5 separate regions of the Homo sapiens genome follow, and regions 2, 3, 4 and 5 are each linked to region 1. The links come from fine-mapping of genetic effects on gene expression. A gene starts in region 1. Each other region holds a variant in brackets. All regions are shown on one strand. Distances are from middle to middle.

The links. PIP is the estimated chance that this variant, and not a neighbour inherited with it, causes the effect.
Region 2: its variant is fine-mapped to the expression of TMEM43 in blood mononuclear cells (TOPMed, PIP above 0.99).
Region 3: its variant is fine-mapped to the expression of TMEM43 in monocytes after LPS (Quach 2016, PIP 0.95).
Region 4: its variant is fine-mapped to the expression of TMEM43 in whole blood (TOPMed, PIP above 0.99).
Region 5: its variant is fine-mapped to the expression of TMEM43 in testis (GTEx, PIP 0.98).

Annotation. Positions count from the first base shown.
Region 1 is chr3:14,122,343-14,127,446 of GRCh38, reverse strand. It overlaps TMEM43 (transmembrane protein 43), which reads right to left and starts at 2,395. Exons shown (of 12, transcript NM_024334.3): 1 at 2,242-2,395. The coding sequence starts at 2,253. It overlaps CHCHD4 (coiled-coil-helix-coiled-coil-helix domain containing 4), which reads left to right and starts at 2,577. Exons shown (of 3, transcript NM_001098502.2): 1 at 2,577-2,792. The coding sequence starts at 2,771. RefSeq lists enhancers at 1,761-2,050, 1,483-2,217, 2,151-2,350, 2,218-2,952, 3,721-3,820 and 1 more and silencers at 2,541-3,100, 3,111-3,160.
Region 2 is chr3:14,212,751-14,217,854 of GRCh38, reverse strand. No RefSeq gene overlaps it. Among named protein-coding and RNA genes, the nearest start is that of LSM3, 36 kb to the right of the region's middle. RefSeq lists silencers at 1,312-1,391, 1,422-1,471. The variant G/A (reference allele first, on the strand shown) is at 2,392.
Region 3 is chr3:14,002,821-14,007,924 of GRCh38, reverse strand. It overlaps the pseudogene TPRXL. Among named protein-coding and RNA genes, the nearest start is that of CHCHD4, 120 kb to the left of the region's middle. The variant C/AC (reference allele first, on the strand shown) is at 2,972.
Region 4 is chr3:14,169,921-14,175,024 of GRCh38, reverse strand. It overlaps XPC (XPC complex subunit, DNA damage recognition and repair factor), which reads left to right. Exons shown (of 16, transcript NM_004628.5): 2 at 1,963-2,158; 3 at 4,475-4,587. Among named protein-coding and RNA genes, the nearest start is that of XPC, 6.1 kb to the left of the region's middle. The variant C/A (reference allele first, on the strand shown) is at 2,807.
Region 5 is chr3:14,163,302-14,168,405 of GRCh38, reverse strand. XPC (XPC complex subunit, DNA damage recognition and repair factor) reads left to right here. Exons shown (of 16, transcript NM_004628.5): 4 at 26-149; 5 at 1,153-1,237; 6 at 2,821-2,978; 7 at 3,473-3,593. Among named protein-coding and RNA genes, the nearest start is that of XPC, 13 kb to the left of the region's middle. The variant G/A (reference allele first, on the strand shown) is at 2,381.

The DNA.
Region 1 (5,104 bases):
CTGAATGTTGGGAGCCAGCTGCAGGCAGCAATAGGAAAATAAGGCGTGTCTTCCTCTTGGGCCTCCCCTCAGCCAGCATCAAGATAAGGGGCTCAAAGACGGCCTTGGAGGGAAGGAAGAGAGGTACAGGAGGGTGCCCCTCAGGCTAGGGGAGGGGTGAGGTGGGCAGTGACATGACAAACCCAGCCCACATTCTGAACCAAAATTCCCAGTAAACATGGAGGATCATAAAGGATCTATATATCCACACATATTTATATATACATATAGTATGTATTACATGTATACACACATTATATAAACACACACACACACGCACACACAGACGGACATCCCCAGTGACACATCCCCTCCCAGTCCTAGCACTCAGGACTTAGAAGAAATGAGCAATGAGTGGTGGGAACAGAGGCTGACACATAGGCCCTGGAAATGGACAGAACTGGATTTGATGCCTAGGTTCACCAATCGCTTGCTGTGTAAGCCTGGGTAAATTGCTCTACCTCTCTGATTCTGTTTACTCACTTATAAAGTGGAGAGGGGAATAGTACCTTCACCACAGGTACTGCTGCTGCTGTACTGATTGAGAATTTTGTTGCCTCCCTGCTCCATCCCGCTATCTTCTTCCTCACCCAGCCTAGTGGCTGCTGTAAATGTGTACTCAGCTACTGGATGAATCAAAAAATGCTTGGCAGCAGAGAATACTCAAATGCATGTATATTCCTTGGTGAGGGGTCAGGTCTCAATGTACCCAAGATGATCTCTATCCACTGGGACCATTTGTGCTACCCTGCAAGGACAGGCTTGTTTTCAAGTATTAAGTACCTACCACACATCAGGCACTGTGCTAAGCAGTCTCCCTTAAATATCACAGTAACTGATCCATGAGGCTACATAAACCTGGAGAGATGAAAGCCACACAGCTACTGGGTGGAAGAATCTGGATTGCCCCCAGGTCTCCCTAACTCCAAAGCCTGCCCTTTTCAGCATATTTCCGTGTCACAGCATGCCAAGCCGGCCACGAGAGCTTGGGCAAGTGCCTTCCCCTGCTAGGGAAGTTCCCCATCTGTAAAATATGGTGGTGGTAGTGATGGGAGCAGACAAAGAGTCCACATACTACAGACAGGCTGGTCTCCTGACTGCCCTCTCGCCTGGCCGAGCCTGAGTCTCTCCGAATACCTCTGAGGCTTTTCTAGGTACAACATTCAAGGCTTCTAACCCTCCTGTGGGCCCGAAATGTCCTGGGAGTGTGGATGATACTAACCCGAGACAAAGTGTACTAGGGCTGTGGGTGATGCACACCCTGGCCTCTCAAGGGGTGTGGGAGGCAGAGAGGACGCTTGGGGACAGAGGCGGTGTCTGGAAATAGGGTGTGACAGGCAAGGGGAGAGCTGCTAGGACACTCTACCAAAGCAGGAGGGAGGGTGTGTCTGGGGCTGGCTGGGCTCCTAAGCGGGCCCTAGAAGCACTTTCACAGAGGAGGGGAGAGGTGAGTCACCAGCTTCTCCCACACCCAGCGCCCTGGTAGGAGGCGCTGCTTGTTGAATGAATGTTGGGCTTAAATAGTTTCCCGAGAAAGGCTAGTTGCAGGGAGAAGAGGCCTTGAGGGAACAGCCCTCAGCCAGGCCTCCTCCAACCAAATCCTTGCTAGGGGGAGGAGGGGCCCCGACAGTAGAGAAATGCTCCCTCTCCCCCAACTCCTTCGCTCCCAGCCCAGCCTAAGCTTTTTGGAGCATCACAGACTCGGTTTACAGAGACTCCCTAGGGCGGAGAGCTCTCTGCCCGCCTGGACAGCCCTGTCTGTCCATTGCTGGACAGCTCCACTTGGGCTGGATCGCCTTCCTCCCTCCCAAGGGACTGGCGCCCTCTCTGAGGTCGCGTCCAGCTCTCATAATGCGCAAGTTTCAGGGCCCCAAGGTACAGGAGGGAACTGGGAATGCAAGGAGGGGCCGCGGAGAGGCGTACAAGCAGATCCCAGTACGGGAGCAACACCTCCGAGTCCGCCTCCGCACGAACGCCGAGGACGAGGCGAGCCAAGGAACACGGACAAAAGAAGCCTGGACAGGCCGCGAGATGAGCAGAGGGATGAGCTGGCGAAGGCACAGACACGGCGAGCAGAGGGAGATGCGGGCCTAGCCGCACGGAGGAGCTCCAGGCGGCGAAATGGACCTAGAGGACCCCGGGGAAAAGCCCCAGGGCGACGGGGAAGCCTGGGTGTGGCCCGGCTGGCCCGGGGATACTCACATTCGCGGCCATGGTGGGACCCGGCTCGCTGCCGCCGCCTCGCGCTGTTCAGCTAGGAAGTGGGCTGACGACTGGAGCGTGGTGTCCAGCGGCCTCTTGCCAGCCCCAGCTTCGAAAATCCGCGTGGACTCCAGGGCCAAGCGGGACTTACTGCAGTTACCTCCCCCTGTGCCCAGTGTTTCTGCGCATGCGCGCGGCGAGACGTCCTGGAAACTATACGGTCCGGGACATTGCAGTACCTCATTGATGCGCCTGCGCACTGCAAAGCTTTCGGGGAAATGTAGTTTCTACTGCCTGGAGAGCTGTCGAGGAGCGCGCGACCTGCTGGGAAATGTAGTTTCCGGCTGAGGTTGGCCTGGCCGCGGTTGCGAGGGCGCCGAGGCAGGCGCGCGGCGGGCAGGCCTGGGAGGGGGCGGGTCCGCGCGGGCTTCGGAGGAGCCCGCCCTGCCAGAGGAGAGGGAGGTCACGGCGTAAAGGTGCAGCTGCCGCCACCGCCGCTTCTGCAAGGTCTCAGGGACGGGCTGCAGCCATGTCCTATTGCCGGCAGGAAGGTAGGGAGGGCGGGCTGCCACGGAGACCGGCCTACGAGGGCCTGCGGGAGACACGCGGGCCCCGGCGCCCCGCGACCACGCCGGGCGCGGGCCACCTGAGGCGCGGCCCAGGTGCCCACCCTGGGACACTCGGAGGCGGGCCGGCTGGGGGGTCGCTACTCCTGTTTTGCGGATGAGAAAACCGAAGCTCTGGGGGGAACGGGGCTGGTCCAAGGTCACAGTGAAGCCCGAACCCTGACCTCAGAGGGGCCTGTGCGTAGGAAGTCGTAAACTAGGTCCGGTTGGGGCACGGGAAGTGCCGAGCACGTTGCGTGTGGCTCGAAACTGGGAATGTATGGTGGTTAATTATCACTACCGCTCCTGCCATACCCCACGTGTTTACATTTTGCACGCGCCTTTAAAAGGCGCGTCCCGAAAAGTTGCCACTCGGGGTAGCGTGTGCTGTGCTGGAGTGCTAGGAGTTCCACTAACGGGAATGTTTTTGAGCCCCCTGCTACCTGTCAGGCACTGTTCAAGGAAACTTGCCTGGCTTGTCTCACAGATCTCGCTGCGACCTTTGTAAGTCAGGCTCTGTTGTTGGTCACATTTTACTGAAGAGTAAAGTTAGACACAGGAGACATGGCTAAAGCCACTCAGCCAGCAAATCGTGGAGCTGGGGTTTGAGCCTGGGCATTGTGACCCCAGAAGAGCCTTATCCAATCTAGTGCCCAGTGGATTGCAGGGAGAACCCTGCCTACCTCCCACCCCAAAGTTGAGCTCCGACCACCTACTGCTTCCTTGATGTTACTCTACCCAAGAGCTCAGAAGTACCCGAGCCACAGGTCGGAGGGCCTCCCCACACACTGCCACAAACTGGCTCCTTGGCCCTGAGCTCCCACCTAACCCCTCCAGGCCCTGGTATCCAGTGTTGTAAAATGAGATGTTGGGCTTCATTGATACGGCAAATACTCATGAAGCACCTTCTCTGCGCCAGAGAAGGGGGATGGATGGTTATAAAACTACAGAGAGAGTTGGAAGTCCCCCAGAAATTCTTTGGTGAATACTCCAGCTCCGTCAGTTAATTCAAGCAATCTGAAGCCCAGAGAAGGAGGTGGCCTACCTGTAGTTACACATCCAGTTAGGAGACTAGCTCAGCCTAAAATTCTGAGCCTTTTCCCTGGTGGCGCTGTCTGCTTCTAGAACCTCTCCTCCTCTGGGTCGTAAAGCCATAAGACTCACTCTTTAATGAGTACTATTATATTTCCGCTGATTACTACTTAATGTGTGCCATAAGCAAAAGTCCTCTGCCCTCACCACTCTTGTTTTTAATTTCGAGTCTTTCTCTAATTTACTTCATTTAGCAAATAATTTTTGAGCCTTTGGGTATAATGAGGCTGTGCTGATAAACAAGACCCTCCTCTTTGAGGATTTACAGGAGGCAGTTTTCTCTGGAAAGGGGAGGCTAGGTCCATCTGCCTCCAAAACATGGAGCCCTATCTTTTCCTGCTTCAAAGATCTCTCTTAGTTCGGAGAGGAGTGAGAATTGAAAGCACTCACTTATAGGCCTTCCTTAGTATTTATCTTGTGCATACCACTGTCCCCGTAAGAAGTCCCTAACTTCCCCCCCTCCGCCCCCCACTGATCCTTTATGCTTCCCATAGGATTTTTAAAAAATGATCCCAAACTGCTTACTGTATCAGAGCTTATGTGATCTGGCCCTGTCTGCCTTTCCAGCCTGGTCTCTTCCCACCCTTTTGCTGCCCAGCCTCTAGCCTCTTGGCTATTCCCTTGGTTTGGTATATCCTGCCTTCAGCTCTTCCGTGGCTGACTCCTCATCCTTTAACATTTAGCTCCAATATCACCTCCTGACCCTTTGTGTCTTTCACATCCTGAACTGTCTGAAATGACCTTTTTTATTTTTTGCCATCTTACTTCCTGCCTGTCTTCTCGCACTAAGCTGAGAGCATCAGATGGGCTGTGGAATCCCCAGCATCTAGCACAGGGCTTGGTGTACAATGGGTGCCCACATCTTTATTGAATCATGCATTTACCTGCCCTCTGTTCTGAGTGAATCACTTGCCTGTACAAGTTTATTTCAGGGGTCCACCTGCTACCCAGCCTTCAGGTTAAACTCGTTGGTTTGGCATTCAAGGGCTCTCAGCCTCGCACCTGGGCCTTGGGCTAGCCACACTTCTCCTGTGTCAGCACCATAGTGTTTCTTTCTTAGTTTCCTCTTTCTAATGCAGAGCCTGCCAACTCCTGTTCAGTCAACAATTATAGAGCACACGTGATGTGCCAGCCATTGGGCATATAGTGGTGAGCAAGGTGACACA
Region 2 (5,104 bases), 90 kb before region 1:
CTTTCATACAGCTTTTGCCATGCACTGGGTCCCTTGGTGTAAGAAGAGGTGATACGGAATCCTAGGAAGGTAAATCAGATCCTTTGTGAGTTCTCAGACGGTGGTGCTGGTCAATGCACTGTTGGTGGGAAAGTCAACGAGGAGAAGCGGGGCCAAACGGCCTGAACTGTGAAGGCCTGAAGGGATAAGGCCAGGTGTCAACAGCGCATATTTCAAAAAAAGAAGTTCGAACTCAAGAAAATTTTCCCGGCCGCACACTGTGGCTCACGCTCGTAATCCCAGCACTTTGGGAGGCCGAGGCGGGGGGATCGCGAGGTCAGGAGATCGAGACTCATCCCGGCTAACACGGTGAAACCCCGTCTCTACTAAAAAAAAATTCAAAAAATTAGCCGGGGGTGGCGGCAGGCCCCTGTAGTCCCAGCTACTCGCGAGGCTGAGGCAGGAGAATGGTGTGAACCGGGGAGGCAGAGCTTGCAGTGAGCCGAGATCGAGCCACTGCACTCCAGCCTGGGCAACAGAGCGAGAGTCCATCTCAAAAAAAAAAAAAAAAAAAAGAAAAGAAAAGAAAAGAAAAAGAAAGAAAGAAAGGAAGGAAGGAAGAAAGAAAGAAAGTGAAAAAAAAGAAAAAAAAAATTTCCTGAGATGTCCTAGGCCATACAAGCACTTTTGGGGTGGGGCCCCTGGAAAAACAACATGACTTTCCACCTCTGTTAAAAGCCAAAGCCTCTGTTTTCCGTGCAGGATCGTGATCAGTTTACATACATTGTCTCTATTGATTCTTTCAGCAACTCTTTGGGATACACGTCCTCATTGTGCAAATGGGAGAATTGTTTCCTGTAAAGCTAAGTAACTAGCGTGTGATCGCAGGGCTGAGAGGTGGAGGTGTCTGTGAACAGGGCTGCTGCTTTCCGTGATCCGTGCTCTTTCTGCAATGAAGTTTGGCCGATACACGGCAAGTCGGCCACCACTGACTGCTCCGGGGCTCCTGGCAGACATTATTAATCAATCACAGCTTCTTTTCCCTCCGAGTCTGGACTTAGCTTTACCATCCTCTGCAAAACAGCCCTCGGGCAGCCACTATTAACCATAACTGGCACATCAGATGAAAAATCCTCTGCCATCCCAGGATCACACACGAGTCTGTCTCCCTCTATCTGAACTGGCATGTCCTGAATCTGCCTTTAAGCCAACAGAAGAGTCCAAGTCAATGCAAAAGACCGCTGTAGAGGATGTAGCCATTTCTTGCCAGAGGCCTAAATGAGGTGTGGTTTTAAGAGCCCGGGGAACAGTGGGCCAGTTGAAGACGAACGGACAAGTCAGGAAACTCAAAGAAGGCAGGAGACCAGGGTCCCAGCCCCCTGTCTGCTTCATCACCAGAACCGGCCAATCAGTGCCAGTAATTGGAAGGGGCACATGACCTGGGCTGGGCCAACCATAATGAATCCTGGGGCTTTGGTTGGCGTTTCGGGAATGAGGTGGGTGACTGAGCTGCAGAATGTCCACTAGGGGCTGCTGCGCCATCCTGTCACCACGAGGGGAACGAGGGGAGCATCTGACTGAGAACGGAGTCAATAGCAGGGTGAGCAAAGCCAAGGGACGGAGCAAGACCGATTCTTGGTGGCATAGCCTGCGCTCCTGAATGCAGCCATGTCTACAGTCAGCTCCCGCTGCTCTTTTTTTTTTTCTTAAGTCAGTTTGAGGTTTTATTTTGTTGTTGTTAATTGCTAATGAAAAAGTCCTTGATACTGTCATCTATTTGTCTCCCATAACTGTTCTTTGCCTTAATTTTCATTAAAAATTATGCCCTTGGCCCAGTGCAGTGGCTCACACCTGTTATCCCAGCACTTTGGGATGCTGAGGAGGGATGATTGTTTTTGAGGCCAGGGGTTTGAGACCAGCTTGGGCAACATAGTGAGGCCTGTCTCTACAAAAAGTACACACACACACACACACACACACACACACACACACAATTAGCCAGGTGTGGTGGCACACATCTGTAGGCCCAGCTGCTTGGGATGCTGAAACTGGAGGATTGCTCAAGCTCAGGAGGTCAAGGTTGCAGTGCGCCATCATTATGTTGTTGCATTCCAGCCTGGGTGACAGAGCCAGACCCTGTCTCAAGAAAATAAAAAAATGCCCTTCATCATTGTGGACTGAGCATCTCCCCCTTATCTTTACCCAAATTATTACCCCCTTCTCTGCTCTTCCTGCTGCATGCCAGCCTAAAGGACCTCCTGGGCTACCTGCTCCAGCCACCCCCACCGCCACTTCAGGTTTATGACAGGAAGCCACCAGGTGAGCCTCTCAGTGTCTTTTAGAAAACCTCCTTCTATGTCAGGAACTTTGTATTTATTACCCCATGTTCCCTATGAAGAAATCATGGCATAA[G/A]CTCCTCTGAGAGAGCAGTGCCAGGAAAATGTAGGTGCCATTATTATCCCATTTTCACAGTGGGAAGCTGGGGCCCTGAGAGATTACGTTTTTTGTCTAAGGTCATGAAGTTGTTCTGTGGGGCCAGGATTTAAACCCAGAGTTTCACCATTGCAGTATCCTGTCCCATTCAGTGAGGGGCCACCATCGCTGTAGTCAAGCAACCACTCCAGCGGGCTGACGTGTGATGGCCTTTTTGTCGCTGACCACCCGCCCTTCCCGCCTTCCCATCTTCCATCTACCCCAAATCTTCTTTATAAGGAGTCATCTACAGCTGGAGAAGAGGGAGGGTGGTCATGTTCAGCCCCTGTGCTCTCAAATGCAGGCGTGAAAACAGTCACCTGGGATGACTTGAAGTGAACTTGCTCCACAGTTATCTTTTTCAGCACACTTGGCTTCAGAATCAGCAAAACCTGGTGCAATAAAACCTGGGTCAATCTGCACTTTACTATCCTGCTATCTCTGTTAACAACCATTTGACAGTCCTACCTGGGAGGTGTGGCTGAGAGGAATCGTGAACCTGGAGTTAAGACATATATCCCAGGCCTGGCCTATGGACAACTTCTGGCCGCTTTTTCTCTTTCCTCCGCTGATCATCACTTTCTACATCTGTAAAATTGGGAGGTGGAGAGGTGGGGTCTGATAAGAGTTTTATTTCCCAAAGAATTTTCCATAAATTGAAAAAGAAAGAAAACACAGAAGGCTTCCCCCTCCTGGGCCAGTAATTTTGGGAATACGGTGTAGAACAAAGTTAAACAAAAGTATATTTCCTACAGGACTTCTTGGAAACCTCAGTCTGCCCTTATGCGTTGTGGGTCCTAACAGGGAGGTAGACCACGTAGCACTTCCCACACTTCCGCAACACAGGAAACCTTCCCGGGTACAGTATCCTGTGGCTGTGTGGTGTGAAAAAGACTTTGGGAAAAGTTAGATGCGGTCATCTGTAGGATCCCTTTCAGCTCTGAGAAGTTAAAACTCAAAGTGCATTATTTTGACTTAGGGCTCTGTGAGATGCTGAACTATATGTCCTGAATGATGAACAACCACAAAAATCATGGTCAGTAAAGTTAGATGAAGTTCACTTGTAATTGTAGAATTGTAGTCGCTGTGTGGCATGGATGGTAATGACCCAACAAACAGGCCTTGGGCCTTGCTGGACAACAGGGAGCTATGCAGTAAGCCATCCTCGCAATTCCTTTTTTGGAAATCTGAGGATATACAGATGACCCTTTCCACACCCCCAAAGCCTAGGTTGAATATAAAGTCAGAAACTCATGGCTTAAGGAAGGTGCCTTAGAGACTCTGTGTTGCAAAATGAAAAAGGCTTTGAACTTTCGGAGAAGGACCAGACACAGAAAAACCAAGGTCTGTTGCTGTCCGTGTTGTCTGCAGGAAAGACAAAAAGCAAAATGAGCTAACAAGCATCTTTGTGAATCCTCCTGAGGAAGAAATCAGTTCCACAGCAGCCCTGATTACTAATTATAAAAATGTGCATAATGTCATTGACACTCTACTTGGGGAGTTTTCTTTATTGCTTTATTTTGGTGAGTACAGAAAGTACCCATAGAAGAGAAATTAATGGATTCACTCTTGACTGAAGTCCTCCAAGTCAATTTTCACTCAAAATTGAATTTTCCCATGAGAGTTCCCAGGAAGGAGAGGGGTATAGGGCAAAGAGTGTGGCTTTGGAGTCAGACATTTATTCAACAAATGTGTATCTCAGTGGCCACTACGTGCCAACCACTGAGAATACAGCAGCAAACAGGAGTCAGAAATCCCAGCTGGGTGCAGTGGCTTACGCCAATAATCTCAGCACTTTGGGAGGCTGAGGTGGGAGGATCACTTGAGTCCAGGAGTTCAAGGCCAGCCTGGGCAACATAGTGAGCTCCCATCTCTACAAAAAATTTTAAAAATTAACCAGGTGTGTTGGTTCATACCTGTAGTCCTAGCTACTTGGGAGGTTGAGGCTGAGGCGTGAAGCTTGCTTAAGCCCAGGAGTTTGAGGCTACACTGAGCTGTGGTCGTGCCACTGCACTTTAGCCTGGGCCACAGAGCTAGACCTTGTCTAAAATTTTTTTTTTTAAAAGTCTCTATCCTAATAGAGCTGCCACCCTGGCTCTGTTGCTCATCAGCTGTGTGAGCTTAGACAAGTCACTTGATCTCTCTGAGCCTTAGCTCGTTACAGCATGGTCACAGGATTGTTGGGAAAGCTAAATGTCAGATCTTATTTGTAGCATGTCTGGCCCAGGGCCTGGCACATAACCAGCCTTCTAGAAATGGTAGTGGGAATTCCGACTCTTGTAGCCAGAGGAGGAAAAGGGAGTTTAGATGGTTTCAGAGGGCTTCTCTCCGAAGGCTGAGCCTTTAAGGGAGGTATAGGATGAGCAGGGGCATCTGAGAACAACAGTATACCTCCATGAATAAAGCCTCGCTTTTGCTCTCTGCACCTCACCTGACCCTCCACTCTCTCCCGGGTTCACCAGCATAGACAGGTGCTGGGCTGCTGACCCCTAGGCCCCAGGCCCATCCAGTTGTCTGTGTTTTCACACAGAGCCAGCTTCCGAGTCACAAGGTCAACCCCACCTGCCCTGGCCTCCTGGGTCCCCTCCAAGGTTGCAGACATGCCTCCATCCCAGCCTGGGGCAGGCATCCCTGCCAGGCACACAGAGGCCAT
Region 3 (5,104 bases), 120 kb after region 1:
AGTAAGCAAACAGCATGGTACTGGTACAAAATCAGACACACAGACCAAAGGAACAGAATAGAAAACTCAGAAATAAAGCCACACAACTGTAAGAATCTGATCTACAAGGCTGACAAAAACAAGCAATAGGGAAAGAACTCCCCATTCAATAAATGGTGCTGGGGTATCTGGCTAGCCATATGCAGAAGAATGAAACAAGATCCTTATCTTTCACCATATAAAAAAATTAACTCATGATGGATTAAAGATTTAAATCTAAGACCTCAAACTATAAAAATCCTAGAAGAAAACCTAGGAAATGTCACTCTGGACATTGGCTTTGGCAAAGAGTTTTTGTCTAAGTCTCCAAAAGCAATTGCAACAAAACCAAAAATTGACAAGTGGGACCTAGTTAAACCAAAGACCTTCTGCAAAGCAAAAGAAACTATCAACAGAGTAAACAGACAACCTACAGAATGGGAGAAAATATTCCAAACTGTGTATCCAATAAAGGTCTAATATCCAAAATCTATAAGAAATTTTAACAAATCAAGCAAAATGCAAATAACCTCATTAAAAACTGGGCAAAGGACATGAACGGACATGTTTCAAAAGAAGCCATACGTAAGTGGCCTACAAACATATGAAAAAATACTCATTATCTCTAATCATGAGAGAAATCCAATTCAAAACCACAATGAGATACCATCTCGCACAAGTCAGAATGGCTATTGTTAACAAGTCAAAAACCAGTGGATGTGGAGAAAAGGGAATGCTTATAAACTGTTGGTGGGAATGTAAATTAGCTCAGTTACTGTGGAAAGCAGTTTGGAGATTTCTCAAAGAACGTAAAACAGACCTACCATTCAACCCAGCAATCCCATTACTGAGTATATAGCCAAAGGAATACAGATCATTATGCCAAAAAGACACATGCACTCATACGTTAACTGCCATGCTATTCACAACAACAAAGACTTGGAATCAACCTAGGTGCCCATCAGTGGTGGACTGGATAAAGAAAATGTGATGCATATACACCATGAAATGTTACACAGCTTTAAAAGAGAGTGAAATTACGTCATTTGCAGCAACACAGATGGAGCTGGAGGGCCTAATCCTAAGCAAATTAACACAGGAACAGAAAACCAAATACCGCACATTCTCACTTACAAGTGGGAGCTAAACATGGAGCACACATGGACATAAACATGGGAAGAGTAGACACTAAGGACTGCTAGAGGGAGGGAAGTAGGGAGAGAGGCATGACTTGGTAAACTACACATTAGGTACTATGCTCACTACCTGGGTGCAATATACCTAAAACTTGCACATATATCCCCTGTATCTAAAATCTAAAATATAGGTTGAAATGTAAAAACACACAAAATACCAAAACATATGAGATGCAGTTAAAGCAGAGCTTAGATGAAATTTATAGCTGTAAATGTCTAATTAAAAAAGAAGAGATAATGATAAATCTCAAACCAGTAGTGTTCCTTTCCACCTTAAAAAAGCAGAAAAAAGAAGTGCAAAGTAAACACAAAATATTCACAAGGAAGGAAATAATATTGGAGCAAAAATACATAATATAGAAAAGAGGAGAACAGAAAAAATCCACAAAATTTTTCTCTGAAGAAATTTTTAAGATGATAAATTTTATTAGACTGGCCAAGAGAAAACAGAGAGGAATCAAATTACTAGGATTAGGGATGAAAGAGGGGTTGACACTACAAGGTCTACAGAAATAGAAAGGATTATGAAGGGGATACTATGGACAAGCACATGCCAAAAATTAGATAACTTAGATGAATGGAATTTCTATAAAAACACAAAGTACTGAAAGAGTGAACTCAAGAAAAAATAAAAAGCCTAAAGAGAGCTATAACAAGAAATGAATTTAAATTAAAACATATAACACACACACACACACACACACACACACACACACACACACACACACACACACACAAAACAACCCAGGAATGGATTGTTTCAAAGGTGAATTCTAACCAACATTTTAAAAAGATTTAAAACTAATATTCATAAACTCTTCTGAAGAAAGAAGGGGTGAACACTTCCAAACTCATTCTAAGAGGCCAGTATTACCCTGATACTAAAACTAGGCAAAGACATTATAAGAGAAGAAGACTACAGATCAATGTCTCTAATCTATATAGATGCAAAAATCATAAAAATTAAAATAGCAAACTGAAACCAGCAATGTATAACAAGGATTATACACCATGACCAATGGAAATCTATTCCAGGAATGTAAGGTATGTTCAAATATATGAAAAATCAATATAATATACCACATTAAAAGCATAAAGAAAAAAAACCTCATGATCATTTCAATAGACACAGAAAAATATTTGACAAAAATCCAACATATTTTCATAATAAAAACACAAAACAGCCAGGCGCGGTGGCTCACGCCTGTAATTCCAGCACTTTGGGTGCCTGAGGTGGGCAGATCACCTGAGGTCAGGAGTTCGAGATTAGCCTGGCCAACATGGTGAAACCCCATCTCTACTAAAAATACAAAAAGTAGCCAAGTGTGGTGGTAGGCATCTGTAATTCCAGCTACTCAGGAGGCTAAGGCAAGAGAATTGCTTGAACTCTGGAGGTGGAGGTTGCAGTGAGCTGAGATTGCACCACTGCACTCCAGACCGGGCAACAAGAGGGAGACTCAATTTCAAAAAAAGTCCGGGTGTGGTGGCTCACACCTGTAATCCCAGCACTTTGGGAGGCCAAGGCAGGCAGATCACAAGGTCAGGAGTTCGAGACCAGCCTGGTCAACATAGTGAAAAGCCATCTCTACTAAAAATGCAAAAAATTAGCCAGGCATGGTGGTGTGTGCCTGTAATCCCAGCTACTTGGGAGGCTGAGGCAGGAGAATCACGTGAACCTGAGGGCCAAGGTTGCAGTGAGCCGATATCGTGCCATTTGCACTCCAGCCTGGCGACAGTGTGAGACTATAAAAAAAAAA[C/AC]CCACACAAAACAAATTAGGAATCAAAGAAAACTGCCTTAAACTGATAAAAGTCATCTACAAAAAATGTAGAGCTAACATCATATTTAATGGTGAAAGATGGAAAGCATTCCCCCTAAAATCAAGAACAAGACAAGGATGTCAGCTCTCAACATAGCAGCATCATACTGAAAGCTCTAGCCATAGCAATTAGGGAAGGAAAAGAAATATAAGTCATCAGATTGGACAGAAAGAAATAAAATTATCTGTATTTTTAGATGACATGATTTTGTATATAGAAAATCATAGCTGGGGATGGTGGCACATACTTGTAGTTCCAGCTACTCAGGAGGCTGAGACAGGAGGGTCGCTTGAGCCCAGGAGTTCAAGGCTGTAGTGTGCTATGATCATGCCTGTGAATAGCCATTGCATTCCAGCCTGGGCAGCACAGTGAAACCCAACTCAAAAAAAAAAAACGGGAAAAAAAGAGAAAATCCTAAGAAACCCAAAAAATTATTAAAGCTGATATGAGTTCAGCCAGGTGGCAGAATACAAGACATACAAAAATCATTTATATTTCTGTACATTAGCATTAACTATTCTGAAAAAGAAATTGATAAAAAAAATCCAATTACAACACCATAAAATAGAATAAAATGCATAGGAGTAAATTTAAAGAATCCAACCATACCCAGAAACTACAAAACATTACTTTTTTTTTTTGTAACACATGTACAATGTAATAAAACATTGTGTTTTTATTATGAAATAAATTAAAGTAGATCTAAGTAAATGGAAAGACATTCCTTCATTGGTTAAATAACTTAATATTAAAATGTCAATATTCTGCAATTTGATCTATAGATTCAAATGCAATCCTTATAAAAATTCCAGTTTTTTTTTATAGATTTGACAAACTGAATCTAAAATTCATATGGAAATTCAAAGGACCCAACATAGTCCAAACAATCGTGAAAAGTAAGATGTTGGAAGATTCACAATTACAATTTCAGAACTTACTATAAGGCTACAGTCATTGAGAGAGTATGGCACTGTTTTAAGGAAAAACATACAGATCACTGAAATGGAAATATACCCATACTTCTATGCTCAACTGATTTTTGATAAAAGTGTCAAGACAATTCCATGGGTAAGAAAACATCTTTTCAGCAAATGGTGTTGTTAGAACTGAATATTCCTAAGCAAATAAGTGAAGTTAGATACCTACCTCAGACCATATACAAAATTATATTAATATGGCTTAGTGATTTAAATGTAATAAATAAAACCCTAAACATTTTAGAAGAACATGTAAGTATAAATCTTCCTGTACCAGGCAATGGCTTCTTCAAAATGACATCTTAAGCCGGGGGCAGGAGGAAAGGGAAACCAAAGGAAGAACAGATAAAGTGGACTTCATCAAAATTAAAAACTGTTTAAGTGGTACAAGTAAATTTTAGGAGTGATGTGCTGCCTCTCTGTACCATATGGAGGATTGGCTCCACTTTAATGAGTAGGGGAAAACAAATTCTCCACGCATGTAAATTCTCAAGGATTCCTTTGAAGGTTTATCATAATATAATATAAAACTCATAAGGAAATAGTAAAAGTCATTTTGTGTCACATTATGAATTTAAAATATTTTTACATAAAAAAATCAAAAACTTGTTTACCAAAGGACACTATCAGGAATATAAACAGACAACCCACAGAATGGGAGAAAATATTTGTAAATCATGTATCTGATAAGGGCTTAGTATTCAGAATTTATAATGAATTCTTGGCTGGGCACAATGGCTCATGCCTGTAATGCCAGCACTTTGGGAGAACGAGGCGGGCGGATCACGAGGTCAGGAGATCTAGACCATCCTGGCTAACACGGTGAAGCCCCGTCTCTACTAAAAATACAAAAAATTAGCCGGGTGTGGTGGCGGGCGCCTGTAGTCCCAGCTACTCAGGAGGCTGAGGCAGGAGAATGGCGTGAACCTGGGAGGTGGAGCTTGAAGTAAGCCGAGATAGCGCCACTGCACTCCAGCCTGGGCGACAGAGCGAGACTCCGTCTCAGAAATAAATAAATAAATAAATAAATTATCTTACAACTCAACAACAGTAGACAGATAACCCAATTTTTAAAAAGTATGTCCTTTCAGCAATA
Region 4 (5,104 bases), 48 kb before region 1:
CGGTGTTCTTATTAAATCCCAGTAGATGGGCAAGCAGACCACAGTGGTAATTCCTGCCCTACTGAAAGAACACTGAACTCAAGGAGTCTGGTTAGGCATATTAGATAACTCAAGATTTTGGAGAGTCCTGGAAAAGAGTCTCTAGATGCTTAGGGACCAAAAAATAGCAGAGAACAGAAAGTCACCCATATTTCTGCCATCCAGAAATAGCCACCATGAAATAGTGGTCTGTTTCCTTCTAGTCTGTTTTTTATATAGCAGAAAGCATACTGTAAAATCAACTTTGCATGAGTAACATTACATCATATATCGTTTTTCTTTATCTTAAAGGATGACTCAATTATATTTTGTTGTGTGGCTCTGCCATAAGTTACTTAACAATTATCTCATGGTTGGACATTCAGATTATTGTTAGATGCTTTTGAATACTATGAACATCCTTTTGATTCAGAGTTTTTGTGTTTCCTTTATCCCCCTTTCCCTTTTAACTCCTCTACCTTTCTCTTCAAACGGAAATAAAAGCTGTGCTTTTTAACCAACTAGAAAAGTTTGTGATGCCTCTGAAGTATCCTCCTACGTGCATTTTTTTAGATTAGTAGAAATTGAAGTGTTTAGCATCTTTGCCTATTATTAGAGGGCTAACTACCATTGTAAGATCCAGAAATCTTGATTTTAGGGGCACCCTCCTCAAACTGTCAAATCTTAAGCTTTATGCAACCTCTGGCCTTGGAGTAGGCAATCTGTTCTCAGATTTGAAAAAATTAATTTTGAAATAATTTGTACTTCAAAATTTTTCCTTATTTTTTGGTTTCCATACAATGTTTAAAAATGGGAATGCATAAATTCCTTTTTTATAAAACATTTAAAGAAACAACGGAATCAATGATCTAACATTAAAATAAATGCTCCTTTGTTATGAATTTTATTAACATTTAATCATGATTTCATTTAGATCAGAAGGGAGAGTCTTTTTTCCCTCATGCAAAAGTATATTCTTGTGGAATATAAATACCCATCCAGAGAGTCAGCAAGACAAACAATGAAAAGACTGAATTATTAAATAATTTTATATTTTAGGTTAATATTGCAATCCCTTTTGGAACCTCAATAAAAGGTAGAGTATTTTTATTTTCTAAAATTAATTGAAGCAGAGTCATGCAAAGACAAAAGATTTATTTCAGATTCAAGATAATTTGTGTGAATATATTTGCAAAATAGAAAACTATCCTTCCCTGCCATATTATTTGTTAAAACTAATCTATTAATATAATTATTATATGTAAATAAACCATAATTTTAGATACCCCAATTTGACTAAAACCAGCAGCTTATGCATTTTTTATTTCCCTTTAACAAAAAAATAATTACTTTAAGAAAATACTTTTGAATTATTGCTGTCTTTTTCCAACTGTAAGTTTGCTGAGGTGGTTGGTATATGAGTGCCATTTGGGTTACATTGGAAAGGTTTCAGAGCAGTATGTGTTTTGAGCAGTTTGGTCTTGAAGGTTGGCAGAAATGTAGATTAATAGTAATGATGTTGTGGTAAAACTTGGACATGTTTATGTACTTAACATTTTACTTAGGAGTACATTATCCCTAAGACAATTAATTTTGGCAGATAATAAATAAGGTGCTAATTAATGGATGTTGTATTTTCCTGGCAGGAGGTTAGCTGACATTTAAGATCTGGAAGTTAGGTTTTATTTGAGTCCTATGGTATTTTCTGTAGTCATAGGAGAAGTAAAGTGCTGATAAAGGAAGATGGTTTTTACTGTGAATATAGACTAGCCGCAGGTGGGAAGAAGCTGAGAGCTGGTTGCTGACCAGACAGGGGATGGTGAACCAGTGATGGAGATGGGGTTTGGAGACAGGTCATAGAGCCGTTTTATGCCCCTGCCCATAAGCTGCACTGCCTCCACCTTTCCTTCCACCCCTCACCTTATGTTCTGTGTTGTCACCTAGATGCCTTTGAAGATGAGAAACCCCCAAAGAAGAGCCTTCTCTCCAAAGTTTCACAAGGAAAGAGGAAAAGAGGCTGCAGTCATCCTGGGGGTTCAGCAGATGGTCCAGCAAAAAAGAAAGTGGCCAAGGTGACTGTTAAATCTGAAAACCTCAAGGTTATAAAGGATGAAGCCCTCAGCGATGGGGATGACCTCAGGTGAGATGTCTGCAAAGCTTTGTCTCGGGTCTTGATTTTTCTCATCAGAGAATTGTGAATAATGAAAACCTCTATTCTTACTTGTCACTGGGGTCCATGGAAGATTGGATCTTTAAATTCTTCTAGGTACAACTCAGACCGGTAAGAGCTGGAAACTTTTCAGATAAGAACAGTGACAGCATGCAGTAAGTGATTTATTCATGCTTCCACAGCTGGACAGTGGCAAAAGCAGGAGAACCCAGGTCTTCTGACTCCTGGTCCAGTGCTCTTTCTACTACACAAAAATATTAGATGTATACAAAATATTTACCTGCCATTCCAGCTTTATCTCATACTACTGTCCTCAAGCACGCTCTTCTCCGGCCCACCTGAGCTTCTCATCATTCACTGAACACATTCTCCTACTTTCTACACCTGCATTGTGCTCATGGTATTCCCTCTACCTGGAGTGCTTGCTGGCTTCCATCTTGAAGATGCAGATCTGAAACCACCTACTCCAGAGGCTTCACTGATTCTTCCCCCTTCTCTCCTCTGACTTCCTGTAGCGCTTCTAGGGAGTGTGATATGTCTGCCAGTTATTGTTACCATGCCACATACCCAGGCTTACTACCCTGTGACCTCTCAGAGGGCTGGAACCATGTGGGGTTC[C/A]TTTTCATATGCCCTGTAGCATCCATTGCAGGCCCTTTTATTTGGCAGAAACTGAACAAGTATTTTTGCAATGAATGAGCATTTATATTAATATGTTGTGAACAGTGATTATGAGCCCAGGGAACACTTGATTTTCTGCCTCCTAAGAAAGTTGAGGGGTGGGGAGAAGAGGAAGAACAGAGGGATAGTTTTTCATTTGCTTCATAAACAAATCCTCACTGCCAGTATCAGCTTTTCCAGCAGCCTCTAGTCCTGGGATGGGAGAGTAGTCCAGTAGAGGGCACAGGAAGGGACACGGGACAGCATGATGATTTTCCGCCATGATCCATCTCTTCTCCTTTTCTCTAGACTTCCCTTCCCGTCCCGCCCCGTCCCGTCCCCATCCCGGTCCCGTCCTTAATGGAGTCTCGCTCTGTTGCCCAGGCTGGAGTCTAGTGATGCAATCTTGGCTCACTGCAACCTCCGCCTCCCAGGTTCAAGTGAGCCTCCTGAGTAGCTGGGACTGTAGGTGCCCACCACCACGCCCAGCTAATTTTTGTATTTTTAGTAGAAACAGGGTTCCACCATGTTGGTGTCGAACTCCTGACCTCAGGTGATCTGCCCTGCTCAGCCTCCCAAAGTGCTGGGCTTACAGGCGTGAGCCATTGCGCCTGGCCTTCCCTAGACTTTTCTGAAGAATACCTCTGAACTTACTGCTTTCCAGTTGCCTCCCCTCACTAGTTGAATTCTATCTCCAGAGACATATACATAGAGATAGGCCACGATACTGCCAAGGAAAGCTCTGGGTCCCCCTTTCCCTCTCCCCTGAGCATTGACTGTGGTCATTTCTGCTATGTTCATTCTAAGGGGAAATTTTTATTGCTGGTGTTTTGAGAGAAAGTGGTACTCTAAAAAAAGAGTGTATTATTAGAGCTCAAGATTGATGATTGGTTATTTTAAATGTTTATACCAAAATCCTAGATAATATTCTCACTTGGTACCAAGTGCCAAAGTTTACACAAGTTAAAAGTAACTGGATACTCTAGACACATTTTATATATGAATTTGCAGAAATATATTACGTATCAGCAAGTACTTAGCCTTGAGCCATTGTTTAGCCAGCTACTTATCTATGTTATTATCTACTTAGCTAGCTAGCTGTCTATGTCTCTTGTTATTTATGACTCACCTATGTGTAGTTACATCCCTGCTTGAAGTTAGAATGCTATGAATTTCAGTCTCCTTACATCATATTTCTTAAAGATGGAAAAGAAGTCTGAGTAGGCTTATAGTAGGATATATAAATGGAGATTTTATTCTGTTCTTTCTGGCCTCCAACTGCACATATATCACACAGATATCACAGTTCTGGAACTCATTATTATTTTGGTGTCTTCTAATTTTTCCTTGTCATGTCCAGGCACAGCTATGTTTTCTTTCACACGATCTAGATTGTAGGTTTTTTAACAGCACATCTGGTAGTAATTAGACAGATGATCAGAGCACATCTTGATGAGATTTGGAACACATGTTGATGGAGGAAGTGAGGCTCAGAGCTTACTAATCATCTTTAAATAGTTGCAACAGATTCTCAATAAATAGGAGGGGTTTTAAAAATTCCATTTAGCTTGAATGGAACACTAGGATGTCTGAGTCTTCTTCATCTTCCTTCCTGTGGTCTTTACACAGGGACTTTCCAAGTGACCTCAAGAAGGCACACCATCTGAAGAGAGGGGCTACCATGAATGAAGACAGCAATGAAGAAGAGGAAGAAAGTGAAAATGATTGGGAAGAGGTTGAAGGTGAAACATCTTTCTTTGTTTTCAGAACTGTTTGGTTCTGTTTGTTTTTTTGTTTGATTCTGTTTGGAGTCAGATCACTAATTGCAATCCTTTTGTTTTCTTTTGAGCTAATTAGACCACAGATAAGGTTGTACTAGGGACTTGCTTTGATATATATGGAAAAACTCATGGCCAAGTTACCAAAGAAGGCTGTTTACTCTCTTCCTCTGGTGACTGTCAATGGGGTAGATATAAATAGAGAGGCAGCACTATTTAGGAGAAGGAGCACAGGCTTTGAAAGTAGTTAGAATTGGGTTCAGTGCTCAACTTTGCCACTTAGGTGGCAGTGTGAGTGAGTAATTTAATCTTGAGCAAGTAACTTCACCTCTCTGAACTGAGTTTTCTCATTGGTAACACTCTGTAAACACTGAATGTTTAGTGTGAGCCATTCACAGTATAGGCTGTAGGATTATTGTGGGGAAAAGAAAGTTTGCAAATGTAATGGGCCTAATGTATCATACACTCACAGTAAATACCA
Region 5 (5,104 bases), 41 kb before region 1:
GATTTTTAAAAATGCTTGTTGATAGAACTTAGTGAGCCTGTGCTGGGTGACGTGAGAGAAAGTACAGCCTTCTCTCGATCTCTTCTGCCTGTGAAGCCAGTGGAGATAGAGATTGAAACGCCAGAGCAGGCGAAGACAAGAGAAAGAAGGTAAGCTTAGGCCCTTGCTTCTAGGCTCCTGTCACATGCAGTAGGCAACAGCTGCTGCTTAGGAGGACTTTGGAGAAACTTGTAGGGGACCAGGACTGAGTATCAAAGTGGTCGAGAACCTTGGGTCAGGAACCTGATTTACCTTTAGAGACTTGAATGAGACACCTTCGTGTCCTGGCTGGGGCTGGTGAGGGATGAGGAGAGGGAACTCCTGTGTGCCAAGGATTGAGCAGGTCATCCGTTATCTTACCTAATCCTTAGAACAGTGTTGTGAATGAGGAGCTAAGTAACGTTCAGACGCTAAGTAACGTTTCAAGAGTCACTCAGCCAGTAATGGAAGAGCTGAGACCTAATCCTTCTCATTGACTTGGCATTCACATTTTCCTCACCATGTCATGCTGCAGGACTTGAGGCAGTGCCCGCCGTGGTAGGGAGCCCCTATCCTTCCCAGCATCCCGGAGTACCTCTGCAGCCTCTGATGGCTTGGGAATTCCAATGTGCGATGGGCACATTACTAGGCACAGAAGAGGGAGATAATACAAATCATTCAAGAAGTGTCAAGTTGTCTTGAAGATTAATGGGATACAGACTGAAAAAGAGATTTTACACTAGAACAGTGTCACATAAATGATGGTGTGTTAATTTAACATTAATAAAGGTAATGGTTGCTAAGGAGAGAGTCAGTAGTCGGAAGAGTTGGACAGCCAGAGAAGACTTCCTGGAAGAAGTGAGCTTTGAGGCATGTAGGTGAGGTGTGATCTGCTGCTGGTTGAGAGGAGGGTTGTCTGGGTACAGAATGTCCCAGGCCGAGGTTTGCTGGTGAGAAGGAGCCAAAGAGCCTGCAGGAAATAGCTGGCTTGCAGACGGACTTGAGTAGCACAGCCTTGTGTAGGGAAACAGGGAGAGTGATTCACTGTCATCCGAGGAGAAGGAATTGCCTGGGGGAGTGGAGTCTGGTTTCAGTTCCCCCCTTCATTCCCAGATTTTTCACTATTTGTTGCAGTGAAAAGATAAAACTGGAGTTTGAGACATATCTTCGGAGGGCGATGAAACGTTTCAATAAAGGGGTCCATGAGGACACACACAAGGTAAGGGCAAGGAATGATGGGGAAGGACTTTTCCTTGTCGGTGCAAAGAGCTTGTGCTCACCGAGGCTTTATTTCTGGCTTTGCTGCTCTGTGGCCATGGCAAGTTTCTTACTCTCTCTGAGCCTTTGCATCCTCATCTGGGAGGTGGGGGTAGTAATAGTGTCTGTCTTGGAGGGTGGTTGTGTATTATAGGTAAGGTAACTTGCAGCACAATGCCTGGCATGCAGCAGAGGCTAAATAAAGAGCACTTGCCTTCCATCTCTCCTTTCAGCCATTTAATGTCATTAATTCTAATCCCAGCTGCAGGCACTGGCTTTTGACTTTAGCTGACAGTTATTGAACACTTGCACACACCTAGCAAGGTGCTTGGCATGGTGGGGATAGAGACTTGGATAAAGCTTATTTCCTACAATTGAGGAGTATCTGATCTCTAGATGGAACAAGGACTTCCAAACAGAGAAACTCAAGGCTATGCCTGGAACAGTGAAAGAGATCAGCGTGGCTCTGTGGAGCTGGGGAAGGCTTTATGTAGGGGAAAGGATTAGAGCCAGGTCTAGGAGAAAAAGTTGAAGACTCTAGCCAAGTTGTGGAGGGGACGGCGAGGTGCCCAGCTCACCTGCGTGTGTGGAGTATGTAGGTGTTGGGGGGTGGGGGTGAAGGGAGGGTGGGCTTTGGTTTCCCTTTGATGGATGGTGGGCTGCCTGAGAGGATAGTGATGGGATGGGTGAGTTGCTTTGTGTGCAGCTACTGCAGAAATCTAGAGGTGCAAGGATGGTGACGAGGTTAGAGAGGGGTCGCCTCCCTCACCCAGGCCTGGGGCACGAAACGAGACAGCTGTGTGCCTTTCACCTCTTGTTGGGTGCTGGAGGTGAAAGAAAGGGAAGATGACTCTCAGGTTTGAGGCCTGAGTGAGGAGAGAGAGGCAGCACTATTGATTAAAATAGGGAGGCTGTTAGTCGGGGGGGAGGAAGCCAATGTTGAAGGGAAAATGACACAAAGCAGTATGTGAAAAGAGGTGAAGAGGTCATATAATCATTTCAGTAGGTGGATGAAGGGTGGGTTTTGGGGTCAGAGGAAGGGCAAAGATGTGGAGCCTGTGACAGAGAAGGTTGGGCTCAAACACCCAGAGAGGTGGCGAGAGCA[G/A]CCCAGTGAGCCCAGTGGGGTGCATCCCGCCGGCTTCCACAGGCTTCCAGCAGTCTCTCCAGCTCCACTCCACTTGCCTTTTCTTCTGATCTCGTGGAGCAAACCCCAGACATGGCAGCATTTCATCCAGAAATCTTTCAGTATGTATCTCTGAAAGACAAGACCAAAACAAAAACAGTTTGTATTTTGAAAACAAAGCAATTTGTATTTTGAAGCTTTGAGGTTTGATGATTCCTTTGAAGGAATGAGTATACAGAGAGAAAAAGAGAGGGTCAAAGACAAGCTTGGGAAGTGGCCAATGCTAGTGTTTTTACTTTCTTATATGTAGAAATGGCAACACATATTTCTTGTCCACAGCATGTCTTGACTTTGGCAGCAAAAATTCCTCCTGGTGTCCGGCCTTCCTTCCATGCTGCCCCTTCCTCCTTTCCTCTTCACAGGTTCACCTTCTCTGCCTGCTAGCAAATGGCTTCTATCGAAATAACATCTGCAGCCAGCCAGATCTGCATGCTATTGGCCTGTCCATCATCCCAGCCCGCTTTACCAGAGTGCTGCCTCGAGATGTGGACACCTACTACCTCTCAAACCTGGTGAAGTGGTAAGGCCCTCCGCTTGTCCTGCAGAGCTGGGGAGTGTAGGATTTGTGTTTCTCTCAGAGGCTGGGTTCAGGTCACTTCCACAGACCTTCCCTGAGGCGGTAACTATGTATCAGGTGGTGGGCATGGCATTGAAGATAGAGAAATGCCAGGTATGATCTTGCCCTGGTAGAGCTGCCAGACTGGTGGGGAGACAAATACATACCAGGTAATTACAGGATGGCATGAGGAGTGCCCTGGAAGGGGTGTTCTGGGGACTGCAGGCTCACATAGCAGGGGCGCTTTTCTCAGCTGGGAGGTCTGGGAAGGCTCCCCAAGGAGGTAAAGTCTGAGCTGGGTCTGCAGTGATGATAGGAGTTAGCTAGACGGGCTGGGGAAAGTAGGACAGAGGCAGGCGGGTCTCACGATTCACTCCCTCTTTTTATTTTCTTGGCTGGAAATGAAAATTCCCCTTTGCCCTGACCTCTGACACAAGGAATGCCTGCTTTCTCCCCAGGTTCATTGGAACATTTACAGTTAATGCAGAACTTTCAGCCAGTGAACAAGATAACCTGCAGACTACATTGGAAAGGAGATTTGCTATTTACTCTGCTCGAGATGATGAGGAATTGGTCCATGTAAGTGATCCTCCCGGATCACTGTTTTTTATCAGTACTGTTAACTAATGATAATGGCAGCCATGTGCCAGATGCCATTCCAGGTGTGTTACCGACACTACCTTATTCAGTCCTCATAATGACGTTGATAGCTGCTGAAGCCCAGAATAGCTACATGATGCCTCTAAGGTCTTTTCCTTGGTGAGCCTGAGAATCGAGATTGGGATCAGAGTCTGAGTGGAGGGCCTGTATGCTTTCCTCCCTATCGCCTCTAGTTGTGGTGTACCAAAAAGCCCGTAGTTTTTGGTCAGATGTGCTAGAAATATTTTCATTAATTTTTCCAATTTTGTCTTCAGAAGTCCCAAGGAAATGTTTTTTCAAATTGGATGCTGAAGTCCTTGAGAATGTGTTTTTGTATCTCACATTTGGGTGTTGACACTGGCAGGCAGCAGTGCAGTGAGGAGGGTTCTGTCCATAAAAAGGAATCGTGATGGCAGAGTGCTCCAGGGACAGGCAGGCTTTATCAAATGCCTACAGGCACCTGTAGGTAAGGCTCTGTCTGAATAAAACAAAAACAGAGATGGAAATGTGGTTTTATCCCTAGAAGATTCCTATTAATCCATACAGTTCAATCTGGGAGTCCCAGATTCTCTGGAGAAAAAGATGGTTGACATCTTTAGTTCTCTTCTTCCGTGTTGGCTTTAACAAGTCTAAGATATTTGGCAAGGCTGATAATTATGTTATAATGTGCTGCCAATTTTTTTGTTTGTTTGTTTTTGTTTTTTGAGACAGAGTCTCTCTCTGCCGCCTAGGCTGGAGTGCAGTGGTGCAATCTCAGCTCACTGCAACCTCCACCTCCTGGGTTCAAGTGATTCTCATGCCTCAGCCTCGCGAGTAGCTGGGATTACAGGTGCCCACCACCATGCCTGGCTGATTTTTGTATTTTTAGTAGAGATGGGGTTTCACCCTTCACCCTGTTGGCCAGGCTGGTAACTCATTAATATTTTAGTATTGTCCTCCCAGACTTTGTTCCTGTGTATGTGTGTACGTATGTATTTGTTTTGTTTATTTGTTTAAGCAAAATAGGATCACACAGCTTTTAAAGAGGGGGTACAATTCAGTGACCATTTAGTACATTTACAATGTTGTGCAACTACCACCTCTATTTCCAAAATGTTTTTGTCACCCCCAAGGGAAACCCTGTATATACGCATTAAACTCCTCATTGTTACCCCCCTGTCCCTGCTCGTGGCAACCACCAATCTGTCTTGTGTCTCTGTGGATTTACCTATTTAGGATATTTAGTATAAAAGAAATTATACACTATGTGGCCTTTTCTGCCTGTCTTTTGCTTAGTATAATGTTTTCAAGATTCATCTGCATTTTAGCATGTATCAGTATTTCATTAATATTTATAGCTGAATAATATTCCATTACATGTTTATACATTTTCTCTATCCATTTATCCATTGGCAGACATTTAGTTAGTTTCCACCTTGTGGCTGTTGTGAAGAGTGTTGTTAATAATGTCT